Regions from separate parts of the Homo sapiens genome. Here region 2 is linked to region 1. The links come from fine-mapping of genetic effects on gene expression. A gene starts in region 1. The other region holds a variant in brackets. All regions are shown on one strand. Distances are from middle to middle.

Region 1 (8,330 bases):
TCCTTTCACAGAAGCCTAGAGTAGTTAATTTTGAGCTTGCAAAGGCTTTTAACTATTTTATATGATTTTTAGAGCTGACTATGACATGAACCCTAAAATTCCTTTTCCCTAGTAGGTGGAGACCAAGAGAAGGTACTGCCACATGGTTAAAAGGTCAGGCTCCCAAGGACATAAAACAAGGGGAGACTTCATCCTGTTTGTTTGTTTCAGGGACCTGCAGCTGTTTGTTACTGACCAGTTTGCTGGGTCATGTTGAAAAGTGGGCTCACAGGTGTTCTAAGCCCATGTTTCATCCTACAGAAAAACAAATTCACAGCACAAAATACACCAGTTTGACTAGCTTAGAATTCTTTTTCATATTAATCAAAACTTTACAGAGGAGATACACACTGATTTATTATTTTTATTATTGTTATTATTTTTACCATTCATTCAACCGTTTGCACAGAGAGGGAGAAGTCAGAAATCTGACTGGTAACAAATTCTTACCTTTTTGCTGGCATGCCAGGCTTCTGTGTTCCCTTTCTCTGAGTGGTCCCAGTGATCTGGCTTGTGGCACCATCGCCCTGGGGGCCAAGCCTCATTGTAAAGGAAAACTACTTTTTTTCATTCTGACCAGAGCAAAACACATGTGATGAAACATACACATTAGCCACTCTGCTTAGCACCCAATATTAAACTGGCAAGGCTTAAATTTGCCCCCAGATAGGCCCTGTCATCTTTAATCCAACCTCTGACTTGGAGTTTCAACATGTGGTCTCTGGGCAAGATGGTCGCCCTGAGTAATAGAGTAATAGAAAAGATAAGAAAGGGGCCGGGCGCAGTGGCTCACGCCTGTAATCCCAGCACTTCAGGAGGCCGAGGCGGGCAGATCACAAGGTCAGGAGATCGAGACCATCCTGGCTAAGATGGTGAAACCCCGTCTCTACTAAAAATACAAAAAATTAGCCGGGCATGGTTGCAAGCGCCTGTAGTCCCAGCTACTCGGGAGGCTGAGGCAGGAGAATGGCCTGAACCCGGGAGGTGGAGCTTGCAGTGAGCAGAGATAGCGCCACTGCACTCCAGCCTGGGCGACAGAGCGAGACTCCGTCTCAAAAAAAAAAAAAAAATTATATATGGAAATGCTTTCGCAGGCAATACTTTCCCAGGAAATATTTTCCACAAGCAATACTTTCCCAGGGAAGGCAAAATGATCAGGGAGGCCAGAGAAAGACCCACCCATTGCAGTGACACTGAAAAGTTCAGGCGGCTACGGCTGCTGTCGTGAAGGGATTTTTTTCCAGCAGTCCCGTCAGCTCTCAAGTTTCCCCTTTTGGGGGAGGAAAAAGCTCCCCATGTCCCACGATCCTGTACACGCCTAACCCTGTCGCCCGGAGCCATCAGCAAAGAGTGCAAGGCAGATTAATCCAAAGACAATAGCAGTTAACATCCCACGGTGCCAAACCTCTTCTTAGCCAAGAGGGACTTTACTGAGAGGGGTCTCTAACCCCCTAAATCTTAGAAGGGACTCTAATCCTCCTAAGTTGGGCCTCTAACCCAAGGTCAGTCAAGCGTCCTTGCCTTTTATTAAGAGGGGCCTCTAATCCACTCTGCCTTAGGAGAGACTCTAACTCCCCTAACTTGAGCGTCTATCCCAATCCCATTCTTTACCTGGGTACCCCACCACTTACCCAAAGTCATCCAATCAGTGCTGCAGTCTATTTCCTTTGAGTCAGGGGGGTCTCCTCAGCATTGTCCCTTTTGTGGTTTGCGAGAAAAGTGTTACCCGACCCCACCACTTACCCAAAGTTAGCCTTTGGGTCACGGGTTCCTGCAGTATAGTCTCTTCTGTAGTGGCCAGGAATGTGTTACAGGAAAGGGGTCCCAATCCATATCCCAAGAGAGGGTTCTTGGATCTCGCACAAGAAATAATTCAGGGCGAGTCCACAGTGCAAGTGAAAGCAAGTTTATTAAGAAAGTAAAGGAATAAAGAATGGCTACTCCATAGACAGAGCAGCCCCAAGGGTTGCTGGGTGCCCATGTTTATGGTTATTTCTTAGTGACTTGCTAAACAAGGGGTGGATTGTTCATGCCTCCCCTTTTCAGACCACATAGGGTAACTCCCTGACATTGCCATGGCATTTGTAAACTGTCGTGGCACTGATGGGAGTGTAGCAGTGAGGAAGACCAGAGGTCACTCTTGTCACCATTTTGGTTTTGGTGGTTTTGGCCAGCTCCTTTACTGCAACCTGTTTTATCAGCAAGGTCTTTATGATCCGTATTTTGTGCTGACCTCCTATCTCATCCTGTGACTCAGAATGCCTTAACTGTCTGGGAATGCAGCCTAGTAGGTTTTAGCTTCATTTTACCCAGCTCCTATTTAAGATAGAGTTGCTCTGGTTCATATGCCTCTGAAAAAACCATTTAAATTTAATTATAAGAGTCTGGCCAGAGGGGGTGGCTCACGTCTGTAATCCTAGCACTTTGGGAGGCCGAGGTGGGTGGATCACCTGAGGTCGGGAGTTTGAGACCAGCCTGAACAACATGGAAGAACCCTGTCTCTACTAAAAATATAAAATTAGCCAGGCGTGGTGGCGCACACCTGTAATCCCAGCTACTCAGGAGGCTGAGGCAGGAGAATCGCTTGAACCCGGGAGGCGGAGGTTGCAGTGAGTGGAGACTGTGCCACTGCTCTCCAGCCTGGGCAACAAGAGTGAAACTCCATCTCAAAAAAAAAAAAAAAAAAAAAAAATTTAAGAGTCACAAATATGTGAAAAAGAGAATGATGTCTTTATCAATTTTCAAAAATTACTATTGCCAGTGATGAATAACAGTGTTCCTTGCACACTAATTTAGCCAAAAATATTTCTCCAAAAGTACCGCATCGTGTAGGAAATTGACTCCATCTCCATTCCTTGACTATTTTCAATCTCAAAATTAAATCTCTTGGAGAGTACTTTCTGCACACCTTTCTATTTCCTTAACCATATATATCGTCAAACCATTGAAAGCTGGACTTTATTCTCTCACTTTCATAGTCATGAAAAGAAAAAAAAAAAGTTACTGATGGGGACTCCTAAGACTTCGCATAATATAATCTTTGCATAGTCTAGGATTGTTAAAATTCCTAACAAGACTTTATAAACTCTCCTGTCTGCAACCAGTTAATGCTGGGTTGGGCCAGGGTTCCCCTCTTTCCCGTCACTTATCCATCTACGCTCATTCTTTTCATAGCCTCACCCAATATCATGACTTGAAGTAACAGTTTACAGTAATAACTCCCAAATTTATATATCCACGCTCGAACCCTCTGCCAATGTTGAATCATAGGTTGAGTATATGGCACTACGCTTTGTGGTCTTACTGACGTTTCAAACTGATCATGCTTGAAATGGGAGTACTGGGCTTCCCGGCAAGCCTGCTCCACTAGCAGCCTCCCCACCTCAGGGTACGGGAAGTCCACACGTGGCGAACGCGAAGCCTATTACATCACCCGGAAGTCCCTGCATCCTACGAAGGCTGGGCCCGGCCAAAGGAGGCCCAATAGAGGGCGGTCTGTCCTTTCCCAGCAGGCTGGGCACACTGTCAGGCGTCCTCCTTTGGGTGGCTATTTTAACTGCTCATTTATCCTTTTCTTCTATGAAAAGATCCAGAAAAGAGGCAAAGCAAGCGAGAAGTCGCGGGCCCAGCCCACAGCAGGGTAAGCACCTTTGTTCGGGGTCTGAATCGGGGCGAATATCCCCGCCTCCTGACCTCGATTTTCCTGAGCTAGAAGGGACCTTTCGACCCTCCGACTTGTGCCTATACTAAGGCGGTGGCCCTAAGACGACGCGGGGGTTCTGGTGCGCACTTACGTGCAGTCGGATGCGCTGGGTGAGTTCCCACACCCGGTAGATGTAAGGGAAAAACTGCATTACCCAGAAGGCACTGCCCCTTGCGTCGGCCGCGGACTCTGGGCCATTGACGACCCAGGACAGGAGAGTTTTCTGCGGGCCAGGGCGGCGGAGGCGGGACTTCCGCTTCTTCGTGTGACGTCATCTCCGTGGGCCGGTTTGGCCCTGAAACAGTGTGGGGCCTAGAGCGCTGGGTGGGCGCGTTCTGCGGCCTGAGCAGGGACGGGTAGTGAAGCGGTTACGCCCCTTCTTCGCGTCTTGGCGGGAGCCTGACGCCCCGCTTCTCCCCTAACGAGGTGTCCCACCGGCGCCCGCCGAGGCCTAGGCCTCCGCAGCCGCCCTCCGTCTCCTCAGCCCCGACGCTGCGCCTTGGGCCTTGTGCGCATTTTTTTCGGGGGAAAACTGAGGCTCGGAGTGCGAAAGTCAGCCGAGGTCGCCCCGCCCAGGACAGAGAAGGGCTGTGGTCGGCTGATCCGCGGCATTCCCGGGATGGCGGCGGCGTGGATGGCTCCGGCGCAGGTGAGTGGACGAGGTTTCGGCCTTGCTGCTGCTGTGCTATTTCTAGAGGCCTCGTGGGCAGGCTGGAAGCCAAGACAGCCACAGGATTTTTCTTTGTCGCCATCGTTTATTTAAGAGAAATGGCCGTGGCTTGTCATTTCCTTTATCCGCAGTCCTGCAACAGTGTTGGCCTCTGATAGGTGTTCAGTCCGTGGTTGAAGGAGTGATGCTTCCTTCTAGGGATCTCATCACACTTCCCCTAAATCCAACCTTCTCTGTTGCCTGCCAGCCCGTACCCCATCCACCTGGCCAACCACCCCTGACCTTGTCTGTTTGCATTTTTCCCTGGTCCTTTGCTCTTCAGAGCCACCAACCTGACCGTGCAGTCCTCTTCCATTTTCCAGGCTTTCTCCTTGCACTTCCTTTTACTTCGAACACTGCCCCTGTAACTTTGCAGGGCCTCCCTTTCACATCCTTTTGGCATCTGTCCAGGTGTCACCTATTTGGAGGTGCCTTTTTTGGCAATTCCGGCTAAAGTGGCACCTTACACCCTTGCCCAGAGTCTGGTATTTTTGTGTAGATAATCTGATGGTATTAAAGAAGCTTGTGGATTTGAGTTTGTCAAGGATGTAATGGGAACAAAGAAAAATAATTGCAAAGAATGATATTAACTGTCATTGAGTCCTTGCTGTGGGCTGATCGGTGAGTATTATTTAACCCTCAGTTCGTTTAACCCTGAAATTTTTTTTTTTTTTTTTTTTTTTTTTTGAGACGGAGTCTTGTTCTGTCGCCCAGGCTGGAGTGCAGTGGCGTGACCTCGGCTCACTGCAACCTCCGCCTTTTGGGTTCAAGCGATTCTCCTGCCTCAGCCTCCTGAGTAGCTGGGACTACAGGTGTGCGCCACCACGCCTGGCTAATTTTTGTATTTTTAGTAGAGACGGGGTTTTACCGTGTTGGCCACGCTGGTCTTGAACTCCTGACCTCAGGTGATCCACCCATCTGGGTCTCCCAAAGTGCTGGGATTACTCTTTAGAATTAGGTTCTGTTGTCATCATTGTTTTACACAAGAGCAATTTGAGGGTCACATACGTCCAATTACCTGCCTTACATCACTGTAGCTCTTAAGTTTCTTAAGTCAGAAACTAACAACTGGTGTGTCTAACATCATAGCCTGTGTTTTTACCCTCTTCTTTACCCGCAGTGGTTAGGGAGGCCTGGGGGTGAGACCTAAAGTAACCTTTGCAAGATGAGGCCTCCTTCTAGCCAGTGATCTTGGGCATGAGGAGTCATGGCCTTTCATACTGGTGGAACTGTGTAGACTTAAAAAATGGTATATTGGTTGTTTAAGGAGTTCTCAGGGGACCTGTGTGGCTTCCACGGTGGTTTTATATGTGGTTCCCCTTACTCCCTTACCTGCTGACATATTCTGAGAGGGCACGTTTGTATGGTTATGTTGCTGAATGTACCCTCCTACTCAGCCAGGATAGATGTAATCTCCAGATGGGCCCATATTGTCTTGGCTACAACCTGCTGTGCCCTCTATGACTCTTGTTGCTTGCTCATGGAATCTTCTGGCCTCAGGGATGCCTGCTAGTAGGACTTAGGTAGAAAAGGAAGCGATGGCTCATTGTGAATTCTCCCTGGAAGCAGGTCCAGGCCCTAACACCTGATCAGGTGTCACCACGTCAGGTGATTCTTTGGTGAGGTGGATGATGATGACTACACTTCTCTGCCCTTGTCCATGGGAGTGGCTGAAATGTATATGTGGATTTGAAATGCTTCATTCTCATTAACTGCATTAACTTTGCTAATAGAGAAATGTCAGGTTACATAATCAGACCAGAGGGCCCTGGGCTTAAATCCTGCCTCTGTTGATAAGACCTGTGACTTTGGGCTGGGCTTGGTGGCTCACACCTGTAAACCCTGCACTTTGGGAGGCTGAGGTAGGTGGACTGCTTGAGCCCAGGAGTTCAAGACCAGCCTGGGCAACATGGGAAAACCCTGTCTCTACAAAAAGTACAAAAAATTAGACCGGCATGGCATCATGTGCCTGTAGTCCCAGCTGTGCAGGAGGCTGAGGTGGGAGGATCACTAGATCACAGGAGGTCAGGGTTGCAGTGAGCCGACATTGTGCCACTGCATTCCAGCCTGGGTGACAGAGTGAGACCATCTAAAAAAAAAAAAAAGAGAGAGACATGAACACATGAGACTTTGGGTAGACTGGTAGAGCGGAGGGTAGGACTGAGGCCCAGGTCTCAGGTCCCTGAGTGTGACATAGAGATGATGATGGTAAATTCAGATGCTGTGGCCTTTGCCTCAGTGTTTGTTTGTTTTTTTTTTTTTTTACAAACAGTTTTTCTTTCTTTCTTTGTTTTGATGGAGTCTAGCTCTGTTGCCAGGCTGGAGTTCAGTGGTGCGATCTCGGCTCACTGCAACCATCGCCTCCGACGTTCAAGCGATTCTCCTGCTTCAGCCTCCCGAGTAGCTAGGACTACAGGCACACACTACCACACCCAGCTAATTTTTGTATTTTTAGTAGAGATGGGGTTTCACCTTGCTAGCCAGGATGGTCTCAATTTCCTGACCTCATGATCTGCTCACCTCAGCCTCCGAAACTGCTGGGATTACAGGCATGAGTCACCGTGCCCAGCCTACAAACAGTTTTTCTTTAGTTCTTTTGACTATTCTTTTTTTTTTTTTTTTTTTTTTTTGAGACAGAGGCTCGCTCTGTTCTGGAGTACAGTGACACAGTCTTGGCTTACTGCAACCTCTGCCTCCCAGGTTCAAGCGATTCTCCTGCCTCAGCCTCCCTAGTAGCTGGGATTGCAGGCTTGTGCCACCACACCTGGCTAATTTTTGTATTTTTAGTAGAGATGGGGTCTCACCATGTTGGCCAGGCTTGTCTCGAATTCCTGACCTCAGGTAATTCATGTGCCTCAGCCTCCCAGAGTGCTGGGATTACAGGCATGAACCACCGTGCCCAGCCTTGACTATTCTTGATGAAGTGGGAAACACGGTTATATTGACCTGGAAATGGAGGCTCGGCGAAATGAAATGAGGTCCCCAAGGTCACATAGCAGGCACACGTTGATTTCAGGAATTTGGTTTTAAACCTCAGGAGTCTGGCTCCTGAGCTGGGGAGTTTCAGTCACTTTACCATGGCATGTAAACCTGTCAGCATGAGGCAGGCACACAGGGAGGATTGGTAAGACTCAGATACTGTTCCTGTTATTGTTGCTGGTGGTGATGTTTTTATTATTATTATTTCCCATTCCTCTAATATGTCAGAGCACTTACTGTCTGTGCCTCTCAGTCCACTTGGGATTGTCCTAACCTTATTTCTGTGTTAAGTTCAAGTGGCTTCCTGCCTAGGAGGCTTTATTTATTTATTTATTTATTTATTTTTTATTTATTTATTTATTTTTTTTTGAGACAGAGTCTTGCTCTGTTGCCAGGCTGGAGTGCAGTGGCACGATCTCAGCTCACTGCAATCTCCGCCTCCCAGGTTCAAGCAGTTCTCCTGCCTCAGCCGCTTCTGTCTCCTCTTCACTGCTGTAATCCATGCAAGGCAGTGTCCACATTCCCCTTGATCCTAGCACAGATCTTGGCCCTTTGGAGGTGCTTGGTGATTTGGCCTTTGATTCTCTGTGCATCTTTTGCAGTGCTGGAGTGACAGGTTCTAATCCTATTCCACAGTTGCAAAGGAAACATTACTGGTTCTTTTTGACTTTTCAGGAGTCTGTGACCTTCGAGGATGTGGCTGTGACATTTACCCAGGAGGAGTGGGGGCAGTTGGACGTGACCCAGAGGGCCTTGTACGTGGAGGTGATGCTGGAGACCTGTGGGCTTCTGGTCGCACTGGGTAAGGCCTGTCCTCTCCTCTCCAAAATCAGGGGCACCAGAAAGCAGCTTCATTCTAGCCTTCATCCTGGCTCCAGGCCTGGCTAGTGGAATAGGTCT
Region 2 (8,330 bases), 47 kb before region 1:
GTCAGGAGTTCGACACCAGCCTGGCCAAAATGGTGAAACCCTGTCTCTACTAAAAATACCAAAATTAGCCGGGCGTGGTGGTGTGCACCTGTAGTCCCAGCTACTTGGGAGTCTGAGGCAGGAGAATTGGTTGAACCTGGGAGGCAGAGGTTGCAGTGAGCCGAGATCGCACCACTGCACTCCAGCCTGGGCGACAGAGTGAAACTGCATCTCAAAAAAAAAAAAAAATTCCTCAAGTACAGGAATGCATAATTATTTTGCTATGTACATATCTGATTTTTTAGAGCAGTGCCTGTTGCAAGATAGGCACTCAATCGATACTCATTAAATTAACAATATACACATATATAAAACAGCACTTTCACATGGTTATGAGTGACCTAAGGAAAAACAGAACAGGATGACGTTGTAGTGGGGGCTGTTTTAAATTGACAGTTTGGAGCTGGGCGCAGTGGCTCACACCTGTGATCCCAGTATTTTGGGAAGCCGAGGCGAGTGGATCACCTGAGGTCAGGAGTTCGAGACCAGCCTGGCCAACATGGTGAAACCCTGTCTCTACTAAAAATACAAAAATTAGCCGGGCATGGTGGCAGGTGCCTGTAATCCCAGCTACTCAGGAGGCTGAGGCAGGAGAAATGTTTGAACCTAGGAGGCGGAGGTTGCATGAGCTGAGTTCGAGCCACTGCACTCCAGCCTGGGTGACAGAGCAAGACTCCGTCTCAATAAACAAACAAACAGACAGGTTTGGGAAAGCCTCTGAGAAAGGAATGGTTGGCCTGAGCTAAGCGCCATTACCCTGATCCACCTATTGTAACCACCTAATGGGTTCATTATTTTCCCTGCTCCCCAGATAGAGTCGACTTATCAAGACAGGATAATTGCAATAAAGGGTTTAATTCACATCAATCGAGCTAAATGAGAGACCAGAGTTTTATTACTCAAATAGGTCTCCCCAAATATTTTGAGACGAGCTTTTTTGTTTTTGGGTTTTTTTGTTTTTGTTTTTGTTTTTTTTGAGACAGAGTCTCGTTCTCCTTCTGTCGCCCAGGCTGGAGTGCAGTGGCATGATCTTGGCTCACTGCAACCTCCGCCTCCAGGGTTCAAGCGATTCTCTTGCCTCAGCCTTTTGAGTAGGTGGGATTACAGGCATGCGCCACCACACCCGGCTAATTTTTGTAGTAGAAACGGGGTTTCGCCCTGTTGGCCAGGCTGGTCTCGAACTGCCTACCTCAGGTGATCCGCCCGCCTCGGCCTCCCAAAGTGCTGGGATTACAGGCATGAGCCATCACGCCAGGCCTTCAATTATATTTCTGCAAGATATGTTCCCTGTCTAAAAGAATTCAATTTTTAATGTTTTTGAAACTTATGTGTTTGCTAAACAAATACGTGGGGGCTGATTTTACGATCTGAGGCCAAATCCACAAACTGATTACAGGGTCCAACAAATATTTGGCGAGTGGGAGGAGAGGGGTAAGTGAGCTGGACTGGTGGCGTCCTGGCTGTGAGCAGGCACAGCCGCAGGCTTCAGGGAGCCCCATCGCGGTGACCCTGGAGAGTGGCCTGAATCGGACGTGACCTTGAAGCAAGGTGGTTTTGGGGTCGCCGGCTGCACAAGGCGCGAAGTGGTTTAGGGTCACGGGCTGCACGAGGCTCCAGCACGTCAGGAGTGGGCGTCTGTTCATTCCCACGTGCATCGCGGCTCTCTCCTAGTTGACGCATGCACACCCCGTGGGTGTATGCGTTGTTCATTCCCACAACGGCCATCACCACCTCTCCGCACCCTCTGTCTCCTTCCTTCTCGGGCCTCACCCCTGGCCCTCGCTTTCAGTGCCCAGCCCGGACCGCAGCACTCCAGTTCCGCCCCAACCCGGGAACCCTGGACTGAGGCTCCCGTTTCTGTCCTTTCTATTGGGCGCACTTCCGATGGCGTCAGGAATTTCAGCCAATAGGAGCCAGCCAGGAAGTACCTCTCTGAGCGGTTGGTGCCGGGTATAAAAGAAGGCCGCGCAGCCACGGCTGCTCACGACGCCGCGGATCCCGAAGCCTGTGTAGCAGTGAGACATCAGTGAGGCTGCAGGACGAGCAGGATTGGAAGCGCCCCGGCCAGAAAGTGACCCCCCACCCCTTTCAGGACCCTGTGAACGGGAACAGCCATCCAGAGGGTTCAGGAAGGCGTCCGCGCCCTCACCTCTTCTCCCCATGAGCTCCCCCAGAGCTGTGGTGCAGCTGGGCAAAGCTCAACCTGCAGGCGAAGAGTGTGAGAGCCAGCGCCAGAGAAAGGACGCAGGGAAGGCTGGGGACTGGGCCAGGGGTCGGGTGCACAGAAGACACATGTGTTGACATCTCCCCTCCCTCTCCTCCTCCCCAACGCTCTTCTTTTCTCCCCACTCCCTCCCTTCCCTCCAATTCTTTCTTTCACCTCTCCCTCCCCTACTCTCTCCTCCCCTTCCTTTCTCTCTGCCTCTTCTTCACCTCCTCCTCCCCTCCCTACCTTACCTTACTCTTTCTTCTTCCCCTTACCTCTCCCTCCCCCTCTCCCTGCCTTCCCCTTCCCTCTCTTTCTCTCCTCCCCTTCTTCCCCTCACCTCTCGCTCCCTATTCCCTTCTCTACTGTTCTCCTCTCCTCTCTTTCTCTCCCCTTCTCCTTCCCTCCCCTCTCCCTTCCTATCTCCCTCCTCCTCCTCTCTTTCAGTGGCTACAGCAAACCAAACAGCCCAGCAGCCCAGCAGCCCAGCCATGTGAGTCCCTTGGGATTGGTATCTGGAAAAGGAAGGAAGGTGGGACGTGGGGATGAAGAACAGACTGGGTGTGTGGGGTGCTGGCTCCTGGGAACGAGAACTACTGATAGGGCTGGGTCTGTGTGAGAAGGGAAAGCGGCAGAGGAAGGATACAATGAAAGAGGAAGGGGAGCATTGGCATCCCTGACTTTCCCTCCGCCTACCCTACCTCCCAAGCTGAGGCTTTTTTCTTCCTCTCCTGTCAGGCGGCGCCTCACAGTCGATGACTTTGAAATCGGGCGTCCCCTGGGCAAGGGGAAATTTGGGAATGTGTACCTGGCTCGGCTCAAGGAAAGCCATTTCATTGTGGCCCTGAAGGTTCTCTTCAAGTCGCAGATAGAGAAGGAAGGACTGGAGCACCAGCTGCGCCGGGAAATTGAGATCCAGGCTCATCTACAGTAAGGACAGTCTCTGCTTCCTCTTTCATCTTTGACGTCTGAGCCCAGCATTTTCCCCAAATACTAACCCCAAGTAAACCCTGCACTTGTACCTTGAAGACTTCTCTGCAGTTCATTCCATTTACACTACCTCCTACCCTGGGTCAGACACTCGAATCCTGGTTCCTGTTCTCCGTTCTCCCCTCACTTGCTCCCAGATAGGGCTGTTGTTATTCTGGTCCCAGCATAATTTGCCACTTGTGTGACCAGGCAGTGACGGTGGCATCATATGATAGGCCTCAGGGAGAAATCTGACTCTTCCAACATTAATCCTTCAGACACCCCAATATCCTGCGCCTGTATAACTATTTCCATGATGCACGCCGGGTGTACCTGATTCTGGAATATGCTCCAAGGGGTGAGCTCTACAAGGAGCTGCAGAAAAGCGAGAAATTAGATGAACAGCGCACAGCCACGGTGAGGTGCGGGTCTGGAGGCTCTGGGGTCTCTGAGTTTACTGTGGGCTGGTGGGAGCTCTGTTTGTGGCTGTCAGGAGGGTCCGCATTGCCTTCTGAGAAGTTTACTTCTGAATGTTATTGTGTAAATTTAATATAATGGCACGTATGTTCTACAGCTTTATCCTTGGATACCCTAATTAACCTCATTGTATCTCCAGAATATTAATAAGTACTGCGTATAGGTTTGGATTCTTTGGTTATAAGCAACAGAATCTAACTCCACTGCCTTATGTAAAGAAACATATTGAAAGGCTCTGAAGGAGTTCACTGAATAAATAGCTAGAACTGGCTTAGAGATAGGTACAAAGAGATTTCTAGAGGGTTCCGGAAAGGGAA[C/T]CATGGCAATGATTTTCCCAGGAGCAATGGTCCAATCAGCTTGCTGTGTCAGGATGAGTGGTCTTCCATCTTTCCTCCTGTTTCTGTTTCACTTCCTCGGGCCTCAAGTCCTGTGAGAGATCATCTGAGTGGCTCAATGTAGGTTCTATGTCTGGCTACTTGCTGTGCTAGGACAACAGGGAGGATCTGTGTCCATGTTACCATCCATCCTATAAGACCACATAAAAAGGAGAGGAAAACCACACCCCACACACCAGTAACTGGTGCAATTTAAAAGGAGGAAATGGAGTTACTGGACCAAAAAGATTCCACTGTAATCATACAATTCATGGTAAGTGTTCCACCTCAGACGGAAATTGTGGCAGGCTTCACTTCCAGGGTGACTTTTCTTTGCACCCACAGATAATAGAGGAGTTGGCAGATGCCCTGACCTACTGCCATGACAAGAAAGTGATTCACAGAGATATTAAGCCAGAGAACCTGCTGCTGGGGTTCAGGGGTGAGGTGAAGATTGCAGATTTTGGCTGGTCTGTGCACACCCCCTCCCTGAGGTAGGTCAGGTGGTGGTGGTAGGGTGAGTTCTGAGTACCAGTTAGGAATGACCCAGTTTAATGTATTTCATGTGTCCATGTGTAAAACCTAGATACGAACTTGGGGTTTCTATTGGAATACTGCCTTTTTCTTTTCTTTTCTTTTCTTTTTTTTTTTGAGACAGAGTCTAACTCTTTCACCCAGGCTGGAGTGCAGGGGCACAATCTCGGCCTCCCAGGTTAAAGCGGTTCTACTGCCTCAGTCTCCCAAGTAGCTGGGATAACAGGCATGTGCCACCACACTCGGCTAATTTTTGTATTTTTAGTAGAGACAGGGTTTTGCTATGTTGGCCAGGCTAGTCTCGAACTCCTGACCTCAGGTGATCCGCCCACCTTGGCTTCCCAAAGTGCTGGGATTACAGGCGTCAGCCACCATGCCTGGCTGAACTACTGCCTTTTTCTTTTCTTTTTTTTTTTTTTTTTTTTTGAGACAGAGTTTTGCTCTTGTTGCCCAGGCTAGATTGCAATAGTGTGATCTCGGCTCACTGCAACCTCCCCCTCCCAGGTTCAAGCGATTCTCCTGCCTCAGCCTCCCAAGTAGCTGGGATTACAGGCATGGGCCATCACACCCGGCTGATTTTGTATTTTTAGTAAAGACGGGTTTCACCATGTTGGTCAGGCTGGTCTCCAACTCCTGACCTCAGGTAATCTGCCTGCCTCGGCCTCCCAAAGTGCTGGGATCATAGGCATGAGCCACGATGCCTGGCCAATGCTGCCATTTTCAAACACCTATACTTGATATGTATTCGTAGATTTAAATAATGTGGTCCAATCAAACCTTTTATTTTCTGATCTTTGTTAATATATAACTATACCAGTAAGTTTGCATGTAAATAAAGTCATTGCTCCACAATTCCAAAGGAGTGCATTTTTCTGTATGAATGATTTTCATACAGAAATTTTCTTACCATAATTTATTTACTTGGCTCTCATTGATACACCATCAGTTTGTTCTAGATCTTTCTTAATGCTGAGAATATTCTTGTGAAAACATTCTGGAGCATGAGCTAAATCACTGTGTGAATAATTCCAAAATATGGATTTATTAATAGTAGGCCCCAGTACTTTTCTGAACCTTGATCCATATTAAAAATTTGTCTCTCCAAACTCCTGTGCTTGGGAGGGACTTTCCAGGGTGTCCTAGGGTCTCCACATCTCAATGAAAGCTGGGGAAGGAGAATTTCCCTCATCCTGGGCCTCTGCTTAGTACTTATTCCCTTTTCTGCCTTCCTCTAGGAGGAAGACAATGTGTGGGACACTGGACTACTTGCCGCCAGAAATGATTGAGGGGAGAACATATGATGAAAAGGTGGATTTGTGGTGCATTGGAGTGCTCTGCTATGAGCTGCTGGTGGGATATCCACCCTTTGAGAGCGCCTCCCACAGTGAGACTTACAGACGCATCCTCAAGGTGGGACAGTCACCTTTGGGCATTCATGGGGGAGCTGGTCAGTGATGGCTGCTGGGCTGTGGGCACACACACACACAGGGTTGTCTTCTGTGGTCCAGAACAGCGCCTTAACAAGGCTCAAAGAAGAGGGAGGACATTGATCAAAGAAATTAACCAGACTTCTCTTTCTTCTTTCCTGGCCTCATCAGGTAGATGTGAGGTTTCCACTATCAATGCCTCTGGGGGCCCGGGACTTGATTTCCAGGCTTCTCAGATACCAGCCCTTGGAGAGACTGCCCCTGGCCCAGATCCTGAAGCACCCCTGGGTTCAGGCCCACTCCCGAAGGGTGCTGCCTCCCTGTGCTCAGATGGCTTCCTGAGCCCTGTCTGCCTCTGTTCCCTTTGTGTGTGTTCAGGGAGCTCTCCTGGCTCTGCCACCTCATTTGTCTTTATTTTTTTCTCTTTTAAGATGTAAGATGCTAATTAATAAAAGCTGAATCATTTCATACCAGCTCTTCATAGTTGTGTGAGTTATTATGTGACTGGGTAGAATCTTTATTTCTTGTGGGAACTCTTTCCCATGAGAGCTGCCCAAGGTTGTTCTCCCTGCTACCCCCACCTTCCACCTCGGGAGATGGTGACTTCATTCTTCTGAAAACTCTTGCCTACTTTCAGGTCAGGCACGGTGGCTCACGCCTGTAATTCCAGCACTTTGGAAGGCCAAGGCAGGCGCAACACTTGAGTTCAGGAGTTCAAGGCCAGCCTGGCCAACATGGTAAAACCCTGTCTCTTCTAAAAATACAAAAATTAGCTGGGCGTTGTGGCGGGCACCTATAATCCCACCTACTTGTGAGGCTGAGACATGAGAATTGCTTGAACCTGGGAGGCAGAGGCTACAGTGAGCTGAGATCGTGCCATTGGAGTCCAGCATGGGAGACAGAGTGAGACACCGTCTCAAAAGAAAAGAAAGAAAACTCTTGTCTACTTTCTGCAGATAAATTCCCTGAGGGTACATAAACCTGCCACCTATCACAGTGGCTCCTTGATCCAACTTACTATTCTCCATGTTTTCAGGAGTATGCCATTTGTAAAACAGGACTGTCATCAACCCAAAGGTCCACTCTCTTTTTATGGACATCAATATGCTGCTGTCTCAGAAATAAAATGTTTCACTGCACGTCAGTGCAACCCACTTCTTAAGTGAATACACTAGCACCTCTGTGTTGTGTTGCACTCTGATGACATTAGAATAAGTCATTCCTCATAATAAATGTAATATCACCTCTTCTGAAATTACTGCATGCTGCAATTTGGGGAGTGGCCTTCCAGCCTTCTGTAACCTTCTGTGACAGCTTCATGTGGCAGCTGCTCCCTGCACCCATTATAAACTGACTACCACAGTAAGCATCTAGACTCCTCAGCTGTAAGCTCAAATGTTTTTTGATCAATGCAGTCAGTTACACCAGTATTTCTCCTAACTTTAGTTGTTAAGCACTTTATATGGAGTTTGCCTTGTTAATGTTACTCCTATCATTATATTCTACAAAGTCTCCTCATTGTGAAATATCCAGCAGTTGCAGGCATGATTTCTGCTATGACCAGACCCACTACGTAAGCATAAATAACTCAGCCACTTCACTTGGATGAAAAGCTCCCACTATTGCAGATCTATAAGTTAAATACTCCAAGACATTGGTTCATGGTTTTTAACCTGCACTTTCAGTATTTACCTCTTTTTTGTTTTTTCTTTCTTTTACCTGCATGGGGAGACACAGTGCTTACCTCTATATGCTTTGCTTCATCCTATCAGTTTTCCTGAATTAACATTTTAAACACTTGGCAATTCCTAATAAATTAACTGGTTCACACATATAAACTCTTACACATTTTAGGTGCTGGATAAACACATCACTGGGCACATTTTTGGCAGGTAAGGATAGAAAAATCACTAGGGCCTCAGCACTGATCACCAGATGATATATGTTTAAATAATGAAAACTCTGTCATGCTTTACATGAGGGATTTGAAAGTGTCCCCAGGCCGGGCGTAGTGGCTCACACCTGTAATCCCAGCAATTTGGGAGGCTGAGGCAGGCAGATAAACATGTGAGGTCAGGAGTTCGAGACCAGCCTGACCAACATGGTAAAAACCTGTCTTGACTGAAAAATACAAAAATTAGCTGGCCATGGTGGCTGTAATCCCAGCTACTTGCGAGGCTGAGGCACGAGAATCACTTGAACCTGGGAGGTGGAGGTTGCAGGGAGCCGACATTGCGCCACTGTACTCCAGCCTGGGCAACAAAGTGAGACTCTGTCTCAAAAAAAAAAAATTGTCACCAATAT

Evidence for each region.
Region 2: its variant is fine-mapped to the expression of ZNF460-AS1 in esophagus muscle (GTEx, PIP 0.97).

Annotation. Positions count from the first base shown.
Region 1 is chr19:57,276,446-57,284,775 of GRCh38, forward strand. ZNF460-AS1 (ZNF460 antisense RNA 1) reads right to left here and starts at 3,889. Exons shown (of 3, transcript NR_136529.1): 1 at 3,834-3,889; 2 at 490-611. ZNF460 (zinc finger protein 460) reads left to right here and starts at 4,040. Exons shown (of 3, transcript NM_006635.4): 1 at 4,040-4,391; 2 at 8,106-8,232. The coding sequence starts at 4,362. RefSeq lists enhancers at 3,236-4,175, 3,290-3,881, 3,299-4,498, 3,882-4,473, 5,402-5,521 and a silencer at 4,896-4,945.
Region 2 is chr19:57,229,050-57,237,379 of GRCh38, forward strand. AURKC (aurora kinase C) reads left to right here and starts at 1,974. Exons shown (of 7, transcript NM_001015878.2): 1 at 1,974-2,257; 2 at 2,693-2,738; 3 at 2,984-3,175; 4 at 3,493-3,631; 5 at 4,411-4,559; 6 at 5,835-6,009; 7 at 6,198-6,499. The coding sequence starts at 2,200. The coding sequence ends at 6,368. The variant C/T (reference allele first, on the strand shown) is at 4,009.